4 linked regions of the Homo sapiens genome follow. The protein of the gene in region 3 purifies or fractionates together with the protein of the main gene of each other region. This does not show direct contact. Each region holds a gene or a part of one and is shown on either strand. Other genes may lie near its edges.

Region 1 (3,500 bases), on a different chromosome or scaffold from region 3:
GTACCATGTTGGCACTCAAAAGTGTTGGATTTTGTGACATTCTGATTTCAGATTAGGATGCTCAACCTGTATAGTAATCTAGAAATGATTTAGACTATACAAGAAGATCTATATAGAGTATAGGCAAATAGCACACCACTCCATATAACAGACATGAGCATTAGTGGATTTTGGCACCTGTAGTGGGGGTCCTGGAACCAATCCCCTACAGATACTGAGAGATGACTGTACACATATTCATGCATGGTAATAAGAGTGTGGTTCTAATTTATTATTATTGTCCACTCTTTTTCCATCTAAGACCCTGAGAAGGTAACAATCTGCTTCCCTGGACCAGTGGATGGAATTTTTCTAGCTCATTTCTCACAAACATATGGTAGTCCTGTTTCGGCTTCCAGCTTCACATAGGAGATCAATTCTAGCTCCCCACATCACATTAGCCCGAGGTCTTATCTCCCATCCATACTGGCCTTAAAATCCCAGCCCCTAAGCATTATATCTGGATTCAATGTTCCCTGGAACTATTTAGCTTCAGCTCCCATTTACAGCTCTGATTTTGCTTTCCTCTCTCTTCCTGGCACCTAAGGATTTCCCTTTCTTGCTTTCAAGCTCAGCTCTGTATTGGAGACTTTTAATCCAGCATTTCTGCATGGCTGGAATCAGGTTAAGAGTTCCACATCAGATAATATCAACATATGGAACTAAAGAAGTCCAAACTCTTTAGCATGGCATAAAAGGCCTTCCATGACTTGGCTCCTGACATTCTTTTCAGTCTCATCATTTGCTCCAGATACGCCAAACTATTTACAGCTTCCTTTTGAATTTCATACCTTTGCCTGGGATGTTCTTTCTTTACCTCATTTACCTGATAAATACTTATTCATTTTTTAAGACTCTCTTCAAGCATCATGTCTTCTATGAAGCCTTTCTTGCCTCTCCTTTACCACATTTTACCATACTCCACTTTGCGTCCCTCTGCAACTTGTATAGACTCCTATTATTGCATCTATGCTTTCTGCAAATACTTACCATCGACAAGGCTGTCTTTCCCTTAAGGGCTGGAACCATTTCTCATTTATCTCACTATCCCCAGTGCACAGTAGGTGTAACTGAACAAAACTATTTCTACCTTCAAGGACTAAGTACAGTACAGTTTTCAGATATGAAATTTTAGGTCAGGAATAGGAAAAACATCAGTCTATTCAAGAGCAAAAGAATTCCATATATATCAAGAAATGTCTCAATCTCTAACTATGGGCCAGAAAATAGATTGCTCAAATTATTTGGAGGAACAAGAGAAATGGACACAAAATATCAATAAGGACACTACAATGAGGAGTAGAATAGTTATTGCCAGAAAGAAGATGTGCTTTCCAATATACCATCTGGTTTTACAGTTGTGGATTGCTGAAATGTCAGGTTTGACAAAACCAATTAGGGAAAATGATTCACTCATAAGCAGTTACGTGGGCACCATTCCACTGGTGGGGGCAGGAGGCAACATATTGGCTAGTTGATCCTACAAAGGCAGGAAAGGTTCATAGAACCTTCTGAAGTGATGAACCTAAAAGAATGAGTATACTCTAGGACCTTTTAATTTAAAAAATTCTCTTATTGCAACCAACAGAAGAAATCACTTCCTCTTAAGGGAGTAAAAAGAGATTAACCAAATTAACCTTTACCACTTAAATGGACATTACATGAGCTCTATTGAGAATCACTTTTATAGAATGTGATACACCTATGGCAAAATTACTTGTAATATATACTGATAACAGAAGTACAATGGTCCTAATATTCCAAGATTTTTATACCTCTTCAGTTTGGCATTCAGAAACTTCCACTTTTTTTTTTTTCCAGCTCACCCTATCTATAGGGGACAGACTATGAACCCAGATTATCTAGTTCAAATCCCAACTTTGCCACTAATGGCTACATGACTTCAAGCAAGCTACTTAATCTCTCTGTGCCTTAGTTTTTCATCTGTAAAATATAAATGATAAAAGCATACATATCACAAAGCTATTATTAAGATTTAAAGAGTTAATATATGTAAAGCATTAGTTAGCACAATGCCTGGACCATAAAAATGGACTCAATAAATGTTAGTAGTAATCCTTATTACTACTATCATCCTCCTCCTCCTCAGCTTTGGTTTTACTATACAAGCCCCTCCTTTTCCATACATGAAAAGAGGAAACTATTGGTTTTTACTACATACCAGGCACAATGGTTAGCCCTTTCAATATGAATTTATTTATTTCACTCTCATAATAATCATGCAGATGGGGTACTGTTATTTCTGATGTTACTGATGAGGAAACTGAGGCTTAAACATTTAGTAGGTTCTTGGCATTAAAACATAATGCTCATGTTTGGAAGTCACTTGGCAGAAAGTGGACCTAGCTGATTCTAACATTCACATTTAACTCAATTTCTTTTTAATTTGCCATTGTGAACACACCAAGCATCATGCATACATAGAGGAAACAGAAGAGCACATACCACTCATTGAATGGTTATATGTCACTACTTCCCTAGAGTATATCAGACCTAGTCAAATCCTCCTGTCCCTTTATGGTGCCCTGCCACATAGCCTTCTTTGGGCACTAAAACAGGGACTAAGCTCTCTCTTCTCTTACCTCTTTTTTTTTTTGTTTGAGACAGAGTCTCGCTCTGTCACCCAGGCTGGAGTGCAGTGGCATGATCTCGGCTCACTGCAACCTCTGCCTTCCGGGTCCAAGTGATTCTCCTTCCCCAGCCTCCTGTAATCACGAGTAGCTAGGATTACAGGCGCCCACCACCACACCCGGCTAATTTTTGTATTTTTAGTAGAGATGAGGTTTCACCATGTTGGCCAGGCTGGTCTCAAACTCCTGACCTCAGGTGATCTGCCCACCTCAGCCTCCCAAAATGCTGAGATTACAGGTGTGAGCCACCACGCCAGGCCTCTTCTCTTACCTCTTAGCCCTTATTGTCTATATGACAATTCTGTAATGGATCACATATAATTTTTCCTCATTATTTTATTTTATTTTTGAGACAGGGTCTTGCTCTGTTGCCCAGGCTGGAGTACAGTGGTATGATCATAGCTCACTACAGCCTCAACCTCCTGAGCTCAAGCAATCCTCCTACCTCAGCCTCCCTAGTGGCTAGGACCATAGGCGCATGCCACCACGCCCGGCTAATTTTTTTTTTTTTTTGAGATGGAGTCTCGCTCTGTCGCCCAGCTTGGAGCGCAGTGGCGCAATCTCAGCTCACTGCAACCTCCGCCTCCCAGGTTCAAGCAATTCTTCTGCTTCAGCCTCCCAAGCAGCTGGGACTACAGGCGCGCGCGACCACGCCCAGCTAATTTTTTATTTTTAGTAGAGACAGGGTTTCACCATATTGGCCAGGCTGGTCTCAAACTCCTGACCTCATGATCCACCCGCCTCAGCCTCCCAAAGTGCTGGGATTACAGGTGTGAGCCACTGCGCCTGGCTGCTAATTTTTTTTGGTAA
Region 2 (5,181 bases), on a different chromosome or scaffold from region 3:
TGTTAAAAAGACATTTAGCTAAGTGCCTCAGTTAGAAATTAATTTCTGATTGAAATATCCACTTAATTAAATTCAGGTATGGTACTGAAACTTGGTCATATCTTACCTCAAAGAACCTATTTCTGTACTTGTGAAATATAGCTTTATTAATAATTTTAAAGTGCTTAGAGTTCCGATATTTTTTTATCAAAGGGTATTATATAAGTAAAAGTAATTGTGTCTTATTTCCTGTGATAGATAAATGTTTTCTTTCTCTTTTGAAATCAAAGATAAAATGCACATATGCACTCAAATGCAAACATATTTGAAGAGTTTGAAATGTAAACATTCTTATTTTGCAATTGCTTACATGAGAAGTATATAGTCTCCTGTCCTCTTCCATCATGCTCCCTGACAGCAGCCATCATTTCAGTCCCTTGAGAATAGAAAGGAAAGCAGACAAACCACCTGAAAACTCTGGTGAAAGTTCTCATGATGTGGCCTCCAGGGAACAGCCTCTTGTTTTACTTGAGGCTCATTTCCGCTGGGCCATCCTCCTTGCATGTCACTCCATGCCTACTGTGGGTAGGAAACAGGTACTTGGATTGACTGATTGCTGCTTTGAGATTCCTTGACATATTTTTTCATCAACATGAAGGCAAAAGGACATGAATACTCAGTCAAAACATGCAGAGCTGTACTTACGTGAACACTTTTAAAATGCGATACTGAATCTTATATAATTTTAGGATAATTTATGAAAAAGCTTTTCTTTCTTGGAATTTCTTTTGTTTACTCACAAGTGATCCAAGCAAAAGATGAAGCTGTTAAACCATGAGTCAGTATAGTATTTTTTTAACTTAACACCTGAGAATAAAGCTGAAAGGATTGTTTAAAAAGTGTTTCAAATCATACTTTCAAAATCCATCTGTGTCTGGAGACCCTTAAATAAGCACATGCTTCATGGTCATTATCCCAGATAACTGACAATTTGTTTTTCTACAAAATCTCTGGATATTATGAAACATCACACACGAGCTTGCTTTTAGGATAGATTATTAATAATGTATTTTTCAGACACAATTGTATGTGAGAGTTTCTGCAAGTATAAACAATAAGATAACATTACAGCAGCAGGCAACACTCACTAAAATATCAATTTTGAATTGTCTGCTCTCTCTTTGAGAAGGAGAAAGAGCTAACTGAGTATCTTTTTCCCTCATGATGTACTTACTGGTCTCCAATATCCTATGCCATACAAACAGTGGACATGGTCCTTGCTTAGCTCCTATGAAATACGGAAACTGCCTACCTGCTTATTTTTGAGGGAAAAAAAACTTTTCTAGAAAGATTTTTAGACAAATGATTTATTGGCCTTTGAAGCAAGGACAAGTGCTATAACAACTCATTAAGGGACAGTTGAGCTCTAGCAATCAGGTTTTGAGTTATCAAGATTATTAGGAAGAAAAGTTGACACAGTTTCTCAGGAAAAAGACAAGGAAGCAAAGCATTGAAATCTGTTTCTGACTTGGAGTGTCTGCCAGATCCTAGTTTACAAGGCTGGCTTTCTGCCTAATCCCTAGCATTTTCATCAGATTTGAAGACTGAATAAAGTGAACTATTGGGCATTAGAGCATATTTCTAGAGCACCGAGACCTCTTCTATAAATAGCATAACATCACTCTTCTATTTTAACCAATGTTCAGAATCCGAGGCCACAAGTTTTTATATTTAAATATGTATAAACCAGATCATTCTATGCCTGAAAGTACTAGGGTTTTATCTGTCTGTGTACAGGAAATTCTTCTGTTAAAAGCTTAGTTAACAATATGACATTACAAATAATGTACCTATTTTTAGTGGTTTTATTAAATTATAATGTTAAATTTAAAAAGCCAAGCATTCACCTTGAGCTACATCTGAGCCTGATAATTCAAAAAGTGACATTTCAGTACAAAGCCAACATACCCTTAAATTGACAAAACTGCCCTGCTTTTAAATTGTTTTGTAAAAAAGTACTTGATATGCAAGTTTCCAACGACTTGTTTTTTTTCTGGAGAATCTTAGATACTTTCTGAACCACTCTTAGACAACACAGAATGAATATTAATGACAGGAGAGAGCTGACTCCTTCAGGCAAAAGTGGATGAGACAAGTTCTTTTATGCCTTTGAGAATCTGTTTCATCATTTATATATTGAACACATAGCAACAGTTTTATTTCTCTTGATTTCTGGACTTTTAGACCTGTATGCATCGAAGCATATTACACCTCACAGCCTGAATAGGAAAGATTTGTTCAGTTCTCTGGTTATAAGAATGATATAGGAATTCCTTTGTGTTCTCTTCCTTTCTGTACATTTTATTCCTTTCTCATGTCTTCTCTTCCTACTCTGCCCTTCTTCCTTCTTTTCTTCATTCTTTTGTCTTTCCTTTCTTTTTTTGTATCTTAATTAAATATTTTCCTATAGAATCACTAAATGAAGGTTTAGTACTTTTGACCCATAGTAATCTTCACCAGCTGAATTAATTTGTGTCAACAACTAAGAAATGTAATTCTTAGTTTGTATACATTTTAGGTTAGCTTCACAAAATATATGTATAGATAAATAAAGGAGCAGCCTTTTAATTTGTTTATGTAATTGGCACACTTAAATGGAATGTGTCATCATATGAATGTTTTTAAAATTTTGCATGTAAAGGGCTTGCGGATAATTTTTAAACCGTAACTTTTTGCAGAGAGACAGAATAATGTTTTAGAGTCCAAAAAACTGGCATGTACTATTTGGCATGTTTTTCTTTATTTTCTATTTTGCCATTGCAATGGTAACAAGTTACTGTGTTCATGACAGGCGTGCAGCACTGTATTTTTATTTGTTTATTTATTTTATTGCCTTGTTTGATGTTGATAATGAAGAGGTTCTCTCTCTTAAAGATGCAATGAAGGAGACTCAAGTGTTGTTACTTGCCTGCAATTACACATTTAGAAAGCCTCTTATATTTTTTGTCTGTTGGAACTTACTGCCTCAGCACTTAATAAAGCAGGAAAAAGCATGTTTTGTAATTCTCTTACTATGTAAGAACTAGTTTGCTTTTGCTTATCTAACATCATTATTGAGTATAAGATACATAGTCTTTATTTATCCCACTGAAAAAATAAGAAAGATTTGATATACCATTATTTCTTCTGTGACTCTAATTGCAAAATAAATTGAGTTTGTGTTTTAAAATTATTCAAGGGACATTTTTGTAATCTACAAGAAAAGTCACTAAGCTTGAGTCACTAGGCTAAGTTGGCCTTTAGTCATTGCTATATCACTGTGATGTTAGATAAGTCACCTTATTTGTTTTCTTATTTGTAAACTCCATAGTTCCAAGCCACCAAGTAGGGTGCAATGAGAAGTGATTGTAATCATAAGTGTTGTAGCTTTATCACTAACTCTCCAAACTTATCTCTTATTATTCTCCTCATTGATATTCATACACACCTTCTTGCTGTTCCTTCACATAACATTAGTGGAAGTTGTTGAATCTATTGATACTTTTTATCTTCTATTCCAAGGTAGAATGGTTAAACATTCTGCTCTAAGTGAACATATCCAAACCACAATTATTATTCAATTCAAATATGAAGTCTATCAGTTGGCAATTCTTTGTGTTAAGAAACACATTTGCGAGCAATAGCTAATAGCCATACCATTGCAATGTGGAATAATATAAGTGTGTTTGTAGCTAATCTGATTTAAGAAAACAGGAATTTTAGTTGGGAAGGGCCTATAGAAAGAATACAAAATTATATGAAACATAGGATAGGTATTAAGGGAGATATTTGAATGAATACAGGTATTCATATTGTTTCTTACAATATGTCAGGCACTTTTCTATGTACTTTCCATGCTTCATCCCATTTAATATTCTCAATAACTCCTTGGGATTTGTGCTAATTTGTTTATAATTTTTAAGTGAGAAAGTAGTGGAAAAAGAATAACTGAGCAACTTCCCAGGGTCACATTATGTAGTAAGATGTAGAATTAAACCCAAGCTACCTATTTACAGAGCCAATACTCAATCATAGGTAGTCACACAATCAATAAACTCATAAATGTCAGAAGAAGAGAATAGATGGTGGCAAAGAGGTAGAGGTACCCAAAAGAGATTAAATAGTGATAGGCAAATTGATCCACTTTATAGGTTAGGTCAATATGAGCATGATGGCAATAGGATAAAAGTATGAAACTTAGAGAGCTGGATTCAGATAGCCAACTCTGGAATGGTGAACTTCAATAAGATAGTTCCCCAGGAATGAAAATGCAATAATGTTTGCAAATTGTCTGGTGCCCTGTTACTATATGGTAGATTTGACCACCTTTGCTCCTCTTTCTCTTTTTTTATTTTCAGAAATTCTTTCACTTGTAAAAATGCCACCTGACTCAAAATGCTTAAGCAAGAAAAGGGATTTTGGTGCTCATGTGACCATAAAGTTCATGAATATTCTGGCTTCAGTCATAGGTGGAAATGGGAGCTCACACCATGTGGTCAGAACCAAGCCTATTCTCCTTCCTACCACTGTACCACTAGTACTCAATAATTTAACGACTGGTATGATTATACCAGTGTGAAAAGTCTACCTATAAGAGGATATTGGCTGAGTTGATTGTTATTTAATTCTAGTTATGTCCTTGCCTTACTCTGTTTGGCTTCCTCACTTTTTAATGCAGAAGGGTAGATAGTCTTTATTCATCTCATTGCAAAGATAAGAAGAAAGTCCTTTACAAGACTTGAAGAAATTAAGCTTAGTAGAACCAAGAACAGCAAATTGCAGAGCCACTTGCGTGTAAATGAGAATTTCAAACTTTTATTAGTTTTGTAAGGAAGGAGGGGTTATTTCAAGGAGTTTATAAAGTTTTAACCTACATATGCTACAGATTAAACGTTATCAATTTGTACAAATATATTATACATTTTTATCTTTGTTGTACTCTGAATTGAAGAGGAAATATTTGGGAATAATATATTTCTTCGGTAAGTATGATGATGTTCCTATTATATGCCAGGCACCATTTGGATGCTGGGGATACAGAAATAAAAATAGTAGACAGGTTTCCTGCATGTAGGAGCTTACATTCTAAGGAAGAAGAGAGACCATTAAAAACAACAACAAAACATTGCTATGGTACTTATATAATAAATACTATAAAATTGT
Region 3 (5,181 bases):
ATGAAGTGAACCACCAGCCGCTGAAGCTTGGGGACTCTGCAGGTCAAACCTGGGGTCTTTGTGCCCTGCACAGTTTAGGCCTGGGCACAGCGGAGATGATTGGCGTGAAGGTTACAGTTGTCATTCCCACATTTTGAAGGGGTAGATGCAGCTCTGCACTTAATGGGAATGTGACAAGGTTTCATCTTCTGCTCATGCAAACAATATGTGCCTTTGATATTGACTGCAGGCATTCAGCGAGTGGGGTTGTGAAACTGCCCTCCCCAGTTTCCCCAACTTTGCTCTGTGCAGTCTTTCGCTGTGGCAGGGCATCTTCCCCAGCCAGCATCTCAGGAAAAAGGAAGCTTGAAGGGTGCTCAGAGACTCTGTGCTAGGTGTTCCCTTTGATTGTCATCATCCCCAGAAATCACCTGAGGGATATTTTGCGTATATGTCTATCTGGACATTCCCCCATGCCAAAGATAGGGGAGTTATTAGTGACCAGCAGCAGGAAATGGAAGCTAATGTGCTCACACCCAAAACATTTTATTCTTTTTGTCTTGTCCTTCATCTCCCTCCCTGGGCTGCTGCTTTTATTTCCCCTTTTGAATGACCTACTGGACTGCATTCTCCTGAGGAACAAAGGAAGTGCCTTTTTAGCTGGAATCCTTGGAAGACCACCAAGGACTTTAGCTCATGCAGTGCAATTTCGCACCACTTTCAACAATAACAAAAATGCATGACTGAATGGCTCAAAAATGTGGAGTGTTAGAGGCATTCATTTGAGTCTAGGACACTGTCACAACACAGACAGACCCAAGTAAATACCTTTAGACGGCCAGTATAGAAACAGGCGTAATCTTTACCATCACCCTGGCCTCTCCAGATGCATACATTAGCCTTGTCTTCTCTGAGCTACACTCAGATAATTTTGGTCATTTTTTAAGGGGGATAGTCAATATAGTGACTTGTATTCAGCCTAGGTCTGGATGGATTAATTGCCAGGCACTTTGCCTGGGATGGGGAATGTGCTTTTTTCAGTGCAAAACACCCAGGATCATTTTCCAGGTGAAGTATCACAAAGTCTGGGTACCTAGCTCATTGAGCCCCAGGCTCAGCCCAAGTTTAATGTTTTATTCCAGATGGCCTTGCACTTGCCTTCTAGAGGTTTGAACAGGCTTTAAGAATACTCCATGTTCTGGAGGAGTCTCAGTCTTTATAGATCATAGTTAGGATCATCTGATGTGCTCTCAAGGGTGTCAGGGAGTACATCATGCTGACAGGGCTTCCAACTGAGGTCCTGCATTGCCTGTCTGCTTGACCCCTGTACTTTTCAAATAATGCTGAGTCCAGGTGCCATGATCAAAAGGGATCTTTAACACAAAGATTATGTTTTTGTTCAGCTTTCAATGGCCATGTACTTTTGGAGCGCCCACTATGTGCAGTATCCTCTGCTCAGCATTGTGGAGACAGCAAGAAAGGCAGGAGGGGCTTCTGCCACCAGGACCTTTCCTATTAGTAAGGAGATAAGCCACGCACACACAAAATTAGAATACAACACAGTGGTGATAAGTGCCATACAAGCGATACAGATGACGAGAAGGGAGTGCCCAGGCATTTCAAAGAGAGAAGGGATTTAGGACTCTAATACTATAGAATATTAACTGGGTAAAGCTAGTTCACTAGTAAAAATGAAAATACTAATGAAGATAAGTTTAAAAATCTAACCATTTTCATTATGCCTCCCTCCATAAAGACAAAGGTAAAGGGTATGCAACAATGGGCATTTTATTACTCATCTATGTTGAAATTGTTTTTAAGAGTGAGGCAGTGGGTTAGAAGCATTCATGAACTTGCCAAAGGTCCTCTTCACAATGACATTGAATGATACTCAGAACTTTGTGCCCTAGTTGCAGTTTTGGAGTTTTTATTTCTTGTTCCCTTCTGTGTTCATGAGCAATGCACCTATGATCATGTGCTCACACACACATACATATGTACATGCACAAAGGATTCCAGGACTCCTATAAGCTGTTATGACTACGTGGAAAAAAAGTACGTGTGTATGTGTGTTGGAGAGGTAGCAATACTTTCTAATAGTGAGTTGATTATATATGACACACAGCATGTGTCTTTAAGATTTGTATTCCGCCTTCCCCACCGTAAGTAATGTGTTGGATTTTGCAATGAATCTGTGATCTCCTGTTTTGTTGGAATCATCAATTTGGCTCTGTGTTTCACTTGGGGAGGGTCGAATTGAGCCACAGGGCCTATCACTGTAGAAATTGTCCCAAGTAGTTTACAGGAGGTATCTTCTGGACATGTTCAAAAAAGAATTTAGTTAAAGTTCTGGCTTATGCAGCTCAGTCTCTGGTTAGAACATATAAATATAAAATGTCTGATTCAGCATAATTACTGTTTTCCTTTTTTATTTGATTCACGTTGGGTTGCATGCAATTTCAGGATTAACTGGAGACTAGACTGAGGAATGAAAAAGGAAGTTTTTTGTTATGTGTACAAGGGAAACAACATTGGCGTTAATCTGAGGCAGTTGGAAGTGAGTCTCTCTGGCTCCCCAATGACATTAACTGTTTTAGCACTGAGGTTTTTTTCTTATTTATGTTTTTAAAAATGTATTTTGGCCTCATGATAAGAGTTCGTAGCTATTGAATGCTTTCTCTGGGCCTGGCCCTATACCAAGGAACTTACATGATTGTCTCATTTAAAACCCACAACAACCATATGACATCAGAATTATCATCTCCATTTTATAGACAAGAAAACAAATTCAAAGGGATTATGAAATATGTTCACAATCTTATAGCTAATGAATAACAGAGGTGGGATTTGAACCCAGGTCTTATCTGTTCTAGAGTATAGTTCATGCTATGTTGTACAGATAGTAAGACAAGAAAGTACCTTCTCTATTCCCATAGAGGTTGTTGAGATATAAAGTATGGGAGGACCCTCAGCTAACTAGTAACAGACCATCATCAAAACGGCACAATTTTCGTGTTATAGTGGAGAGGATCCAGTCACATCTTTTGTAGACAAAATGTCAAACCCAGACATAGACAATCTAGTGTTAATGGTAGAAGGAATATAAATTGTATTTCCTGGACAATACAATTGAGCCAATGAGGGTTTCTGAGGGAGGGGAATGTCGTCAGTCAAGCTGTTTTAGGAAGATAACTAGTGGCTCTTTGGGTTAAGGGTTGGCGAGGCAAGAGATAAAGACAGGGAGGTCTGTCAGCAGACTCTTTTTAAATAGTTCTTAACTGGTCTACCTGCCTCTTGTCTGTCCCCCCCTCCTAAATCCCTGTTCTATCCTGAACATCGCCAGCTTAATTTCCTTACATCACTGCTTTGATTAGAGTTATTCCTGTGCTTTGAGCTTCAGTGGCTCCAAGCATCTCAAATGATACTTCTTTCATTGAGTCACTTCTGAACTCTCCAGGGTTATGTGCCCACTTCTTCCTAATTCCCTGTTGGAACCAGTCCATGGTCTTTGTACATAACTGCCTTGTATTATAGTTAACTGTGTGTGCAGGTACGTGTTTGTCTTCTCAACTGGAAGCAACTTGAGGGCAAAGATGACAACTCCTCGTCTTGTCTGTGGGTAGCAGTACCAAGTGTGGTAGGTCAGTGCAATATTTGTTAAACAAGTGGGAGAATAACATAGCCAATTCTATTGTGTTCTCTGTCAGACACTAGTGCTACAATGAGATTATACTGCCTTGATGATAGATTGTCATTCCATGGTCTGTTGATCTCCTAGGAATCTTTTGGATCTAAACACTTTTTTTTTTTTTTTTTTTTTTTTTTTTTTTTTTTAAGGCAGGGTCTCACTGTTGCCCAGACTGGAGTGCAGTGGCGTGATCTTGCCTCATCGCAACCTCTGCCTCCCAGGCTCAAGCAATTCTCCTGCCTCAGCCTCCAGAGTAGCTGGGATTATAGGCATGAGCCACTACCGCCTGGCTAATTTTTTTTTTTTTTTTCCAAGATGAAGTTTCGCTCTGTTGCCCAGGCTGGATTGCAGTCGCGTGATCTCGGCTCACTGCAATCTCCACCTCCTGGGTTCAAAGGATTCTCTTGCCTCAGCCTCCCGAGTAGCTGGGATTATAGGCGTGTGCCACCATACCCGGCTAATTTTTGTATTTTTAGTAGAGACGTGGTTTCACCATGTTGGCCAGGCTGGTCTAGAACTCCTGACCTCAAATGATCCAGCCTCCCAAAGTGCTGGAATTACAGGCATGAACCACCATTCCAGGCCTGTATCTAAACACTTTGAAGTGAAATAAATTTAAAGTAAATATGCATATGTTGGTATAGCTTGGAGAACGTTTTTATTCTTTTGGGGGAGTACTTGTCTTTACCACTTCATTAATAACTGAATGCTTATAGGATTTTTTTTTATTTTTTGAAACAGAGTTTCGCTCTTGTTGCCCAGGCTGGAGTGCAATGGCACGATCTCAGCTCTCCGCAACCTCCGCCTCTGGTTCAAGCCATTCTCCTGCCTCAGCCTCCAGAGTAGCTGGGATTACAGGCATGCACCACCATGCCCGGCTAATTTTGTATTTTTAGTAGAGATGGAGTTTTTCCATGTTAGTCAGGCTGGTCTTGAACTCCTGACCTCAGGTGATCCACCTCGGCCTCCCAAAGTGCTGGGATTACAGGCATGAGCTACTGCACTGGCCAGGAATTTTTCAGAAAGATTCAGAATTGTTTTTCTTAATGCCTTGAGATACACTTCTTTAAAGAATGAACAGTTGAGACTGTTGTGATTAGGCAATTTAGAGCAAATTTACCACATGCAACTGTTCAGTGTGCATCAGTTACCTTTTAACATAAAAAAACTCAAGTTTATTGTCTTTACCAAGAAGAACACAAGCTTTGAAGGGTATCAGAATATTTTATATAAATAAACAGACATACTAAAATACAAACAGGTAAAAACTAGCATTTTCAAATCTACTTGGTTAAACATCTGTTGCTTACTATAGAGAACATGAAAGTGCAGAAAATGCATGAAGCGATTCCATCCTGGAGGTAATTTGAAATATTATGTTTAAGTTCTGATGCATTTAATTCAGCAATCTGGTGGGAGAGAAAAATCAAAGAGCTGCATCAGCCAGGTATTCAACTTTTGAGAAAGAAACTCTAACAAATGTTAGAAATTAGGGGAAAAAACTGAATGGGAGA
Region 4 (5,181 bases), on a different chromosome or scaffold from region 3:
TTTTACTCCTCTAATTTAATCTGTCTCTCCAAGCTTCCATTTCATCCTATTATCTATCAGTTTTTTTTTTCTATATACTCAACCATGCCAGACCAGTGTGCCTTTTGTTATATAATGTGCAGATTATGCAAATATCTTTCTAAAAGGGAATCTTATATTCTCCTTGAAAGTGGTCATATCCTACAGTTTTTTGTTTGTTTGTTTTCCTATCTCTGGTATCCTCACTTTGCAACCTTTCTGCTGTAGAGTAGTATACAAGGCCAGGTTTTTCATCTAGGCTCTTCCTACAGATTGCTTACATTTGGAGAATGACTTCTTTCCCTATTGGCTAGGTGAGTTGGCAAGTTGATTTAAGGACTTGCGCCTGTAAGATGAGTAAAATAACAGCAACTTCTCACAGATATTTTTGAAGATTAAGTGAACTAGTATATAGGAAACTCTTAGTAAGAATTAAATGTTAGCCATCTAATCTCTAAATTCAGGTTTTATCATATCTTACACTTGCTGAAAAACATACCGACGACTATTGTGTATTGTATCATCAATTAAGTATTTTTCTGCCTGATGTTCTAAGCTTGCTTCCTAACTCTAACCCCATGTTAACTTCTAATCTTTTCTGCTGTTAATCCAGTATTATGGGCACATTCTCTACCTTCTTCCTTCCATCTTCACTGCATTTGGTAGCATTTTCACAGGGTTTTTCATACTATCAATCAGTCCTTTAATATGGTTACTGCAGTTATTTGAGACTTTCAAAATTCTACACTTCTTTAAAATCTGAATCAAGTCCTACCTTTTTCCTGAAGTTTCTTGAATACTCTGAGAGATTTCTCTTTCAAAGTATTACAGCATTTACTTTTCCAATTCAATTCTAGAGTCTCATAGGTCTCGGTATTTTTTATTATAATATATCTTCCCCTGGTTATAGCTTACAATAGATGAGATTATATTATTCTCTTAGTCATTATACAAAAGCACATTTTGATGTCAGAAAACTTACTTTCTCATGGTTAACTATTATAAGCATAAAGATAAATATTAAAGAATTAAAATAAATGCTAGCACCTCACATGCTATTCAAAAGAATCTACATGTACCAGTTTTGTTGCATGACAAAGAAAAAAATTAAATCATCAATACTCAGTTATTGACCAATAATTATGTGTCAGCAAAAAAAAGTAGTCTAAATCGCTGTGCATTGGAAGATTATTGTGATTTTTGAATTTGGAAAACTTTTCCAAATGATGTTGTAGTCTGTACGTTAACACAGACACTGATCTTGTACTTTCTCTGCATAAGATCTGGGTGAGAACATAGTTTATGAGTAGGAAGGATGTCAGATCAATGGCCACTCCATCCCACTATTAGATAAGCCCCACACCTCACTATTACCTGTCTGTTTCCATTGGCCTGTATTAAAAATACTATCAAGAAAACTAAGAATTCCAAGGCAGGGGATACTAATTTACATATGTTTTTTCAGTTAAATGCATGAGGCTGAAGTTCTGCAATATGTTAGCAATAAACACAATACAGTCAGCCCTCTGTATTCATGGGTTCCACATCTGCAGATTCAACCAACTGTGGATCAAAAATATTAAAAATACTAACAATATAGCAATAAAAATTTAATAAAAATTCAATTCCTCCTGTTCTCCATCGTGCACTATGCTTACTAACCCTTTGTCTAGGTCATTGCCATCCTAACCAGGTAGAGAGTTGAAGGCAGAACTCGTTTTATTTGGCCAGTATTATGTTTAATAAAATGAACATTTATGCCTTCAGGCAGTAAACACACAGTCTAGTTCACAGCAGTTCCTGTTCTTCATTTTATCTTGTTCTTGGCACCTTAAATTTTGTTTAACCCCTGTATCCAAACTCCTGCAGCCATTTGAATTTGCCATCCCTGATTTAGAACTTCAGCAGAACTGCTTCCCTTTATTCTCTTCTTCCCCCTATCAATCAACGTTTCTGATGAGTGAGTGTGTAGCTAATTCGAATAAGCTAGGGTGGGAGATGAATTCTAGGTTGTTGTGCAAAGCCCATCTATTCAATCATTCTGTTTTTTCACACTACAGTCAATTTGTTTTATACTAAGACATGTTCTGCATATTTCTGAAAGTATTTTCTAAGATTCCAATATGAAGCTTCACAAATAGAAAATATTTATGAGATGAGATTATTACACATATATAAAAATAGTGGATTACTAAACAGTGTATTACCAAACAAGTTTACCTACAATTTAATAAGGATTTATGTTTCAATATTAAACACATTACACACACACACACACACACACACAGTTTTACTTTTCTCAGTATTAACTAAAGTGCAACTTCTTTTATAAATGTGCTTTTACAAAATATACTCACTTATTTCCTACTCAAAAGCATGCCAACATGCTCTTTGGACATAACTTAAAACAATTATTTCTACTAACATGCATACCTGTAGACAGCTTTTAATAGAATTTGGTATTTATATTTAAGACAGCAATGGAGTCATGTTAAATATACATTATACTTATAACATTTCACATAAAGTCGCATCATATAGAGTTGCAGTGGTTCATAATTACCTTTATGTCAAAGATACAAAATTAGCAGTTACCATGAAATATAAAGCAGGTAAATACAAAGCAAAAAAAGAGAAGTTAGAATCAATCAAAATGAGAAGGCATATTCTTTGGACTACTTGTACCTTTTTAATTGTCTTCTGGATAAGCAGGTCTCCAACTGGCATTAGAATACCTCCAAACACAGCCAGGACAGCACCAATGACAGCCCCAGCGATGAGCCCACAGTTCCGGTCACAGCCCATTTTTCTTGTTCAGGAGGTGAATTAGTGTTAAGCACCTGTTTCTTGCAAACTCCTGGATATGATTAAAGTGGTTTCTACAAGCTCTGGTTCTATCATTAGAAAGAGATCATAAAACAGAAGCTTAAATATCAGTACAAAAAGATCAAAGTACAAAGAAAACACCCACTGAAACGTATCATTTTGCCCGTTCTAAATAAACAAATGCTTTTCTTTTTGTTTCACCAAAGTGGCTTCCTCGGTCCGTCTCCCTTTTCTTGCTTCTAATGCCTACCAGTGGCAGAACTAATAATGTCATATCTGAATTTCTTCATATTCCTCCTTTTTAATTTTCTTTCTACACATGATTAACATATTGAAATCTTATCTAAGGAGAACTCTCACCCTCATCTCTCTTCCCTTGTCTCAGCAACTTAGTTGCATCCTCACTATCTGGTTTCTCCACCCAACACAACCTTCCACACCCCTTCTGGAGCTCTCCTGCGAACAGAATGTGGGTTGACTGATGTGTTTTCCATTAAATGATAAGCAAGTATGGTAACAGATGTTTTATTTACGATACCTTATTCACAAATCAACAGCAAGACATGAATTTTACAGGAAATGAACTGATGAGTCACAGAAAGAATCAATTCGTCTAATCATTGGAAAGCTATCTGTGAAAATAAGAAAAGCATGGGTAAATAGAAAAAAATTCTCAGAAATTTTATACTGGGACACTCTCTAATATCACCATACTTAAAATAACTGTTAAAAGAAAGTCTAATTTTCATGAATACTGAGTTCAGGCCTGAATGGCTTGTCCTAAAAACTGTTTAAAACATGGAATTTTTAAAATAAGAGTATCTTACTTTCAGTTTTATTGATGACTTTGGATAGACTACAGGTATAAAGAATTTGAAGCAAATATAAAATGTAGAGGATGTCTTGTTTCAACCATGGCATTGCTCTCTTACTGAAGAATTTTTTCCCTACACATTCAACTACAATATAGTTTGTCATTTGCAGTTGATTCATGCTAATTCTGTTAAAATTAGGTAGTTTGTGTTAGTATATATTTGTCAATCTAATGTTTGGTGTCTTCATAAAGTATGTGATTATTATTATTTTTTGAGACGGAGTCTTTCTCTGTCACCCAGGCTGGAGTGCAGTGGCACGATCTCGGCTCACTGCAACCTCTGCCTCCTGGGTTCAAGCAATTCTCCTGACTCAGCCTCCTGTGTAGCTGGGATTACAGGTGCACGCCACCATGCCTGGTTAATTTTTGTATTTTCAGTAGAGATGGGGTTTCACCATGTTGGTCAGGCTGGTCTCGAACTCCTGACCTCGTGATCCACCCACCTCAGCCTCCCAAAGTGCTGGGATGACAGGCGTGAGCCACCATGCCCAGCCATAGTATGTGATTATTATATAAAGATTGGGAGAGCCGGGCGTGGTGGCTCACACCTGTCATCCTAGCACTTTGGAAGGCTGAGGCGGGTGGATCACCTGAGGTTGGGAGTTTGAGACCAGCCCGACCAACACAGAGAAACCCCATCTCTACTAAACATACAAAGTTAGCCGGGCTTGGTGGCACATGCTTGTAATCCCAGCTACTCCGGAGGCTGAGGCAGGAGAATCGCTTGAACCCAGGAGGCGGAGGTTGCGGTGAGCCGAGATCATGCCATTGCACTCCAGCCTGGGCAACAAGAGTGAAACTCCATCTCAAAAAAAAAAAAAAAGATTGGAAGAAAGAATACAGTTTGTGAAATGAGTGGATCCTACTGTAATAATCAGAGTTAATTCTAACTAGTATTTGAAAACACATTTATTTGAACTTCTTTGTTGTTGCAATGACATTTTGTCAATAATGGGGTTGGCGTGTCATTTATAGTCAGAATGCGCTTTATAGTTTATAAACAATTATTCTCTACTTTGAAATGCTCATGGCCAAAGAAAACATATGTGCCAACGGAATGAAGGCTACAGTCAAAAAAGGGCACATAGAATATTGTTGTTAATGTTGTAAGTGTATTAATAATTGTGGTTTGTTATAATTTCAGGTTTTCCCTCCACAGCTGTCTTGCAACAGAGGTACCACTCTTATGATTTTATTAGTATTTACTTCCACTTTAGTAATCATATAGTTTTTCAAAAATATTACCTGTAGAGCTAAGAAAAGAATAAGAAAATGATATTTTCCCCCAAAATGTAGGAATAAATGTTACAAATATTTTTCTTGGCAATTTTATTATTTACATATGTTCCCTTAACCTTTGGGATTCCCCTTTGCCTATTCCCTTATACATAGGATACTTTCCAGTATAAACCATAGGATGCAATAAACTTCATTTACATCAAGGTCTTGGTGATTAAGAAGAC

What was found.
Region 1: the proteins of GPC4 (region 3) and TCEANC2 purify together in Homo sapiens (co-immunoprecipitation; one large-scale study listed by IntAct). This does not show direct contact.
Region 2: the proteins of GPC4 (region 3) and SYT1 purify together in Homo sapiens (co-immunoprecipitation; one large-scale study listed by IntAct). This does not show direct contact.
Region 4: the proteins of GPC4 (region 3) and CD36 purify together in Homo sapiens (affinity purification with western blotting; one study listed by BioGRID). This does not show direct contact.

Annotation. Positions count from the first base shown.
Region 1 is NC_000001.11:54,060,108-54,063,607, reverse strand, and holds part of TCEANC2 (transcription elongation factor A N-terminal and central domain-containing protein 2), read right to left. Parts: intron 1-3,500.
Region 2 is NC_000012.12:78,870,232-78,875,412, forward strand, and holds part of SYT1 (synaptotagmin-1), read left to right. Parts: intron 1-5,181. UniProt on the Homo sapiens protein: Calcium sensor that participates in triggering neurotransmitter release at the synapse. May have a regulatory role in the membrane interactions during trafficking of synaptic vesicles at the active zone of the synapse.
Region 3 is NC_000023.11:133,407,953-133,413,133, reverse strand, and holds part of GPC4 (glypican-4 precursor), read left to right. Parts: intron 1-5,181. UniProt on the Homo sapiens protein: Cell surface proteoglycan that bears heparan sulfate. May be involved in the development of kidney tubules and of the central nervous system.
Region 4 is NC_000007.14:80,644,383-80,649,563, reverse strand, and holds part of CD36 (platelet glycoprotein 4), read right to left. Parts: intron 3,477-5,181; 5' UTR 3,383-3,476; intron 3,316-3,382; exon of another isoform or gene 3,205-3,315; intron 3,119-3,204; exon of another isoform or gene 2,913-3,118; 5' UTR 2,824-2,912; coding exon 2,704-2,823; intron 1-2,703.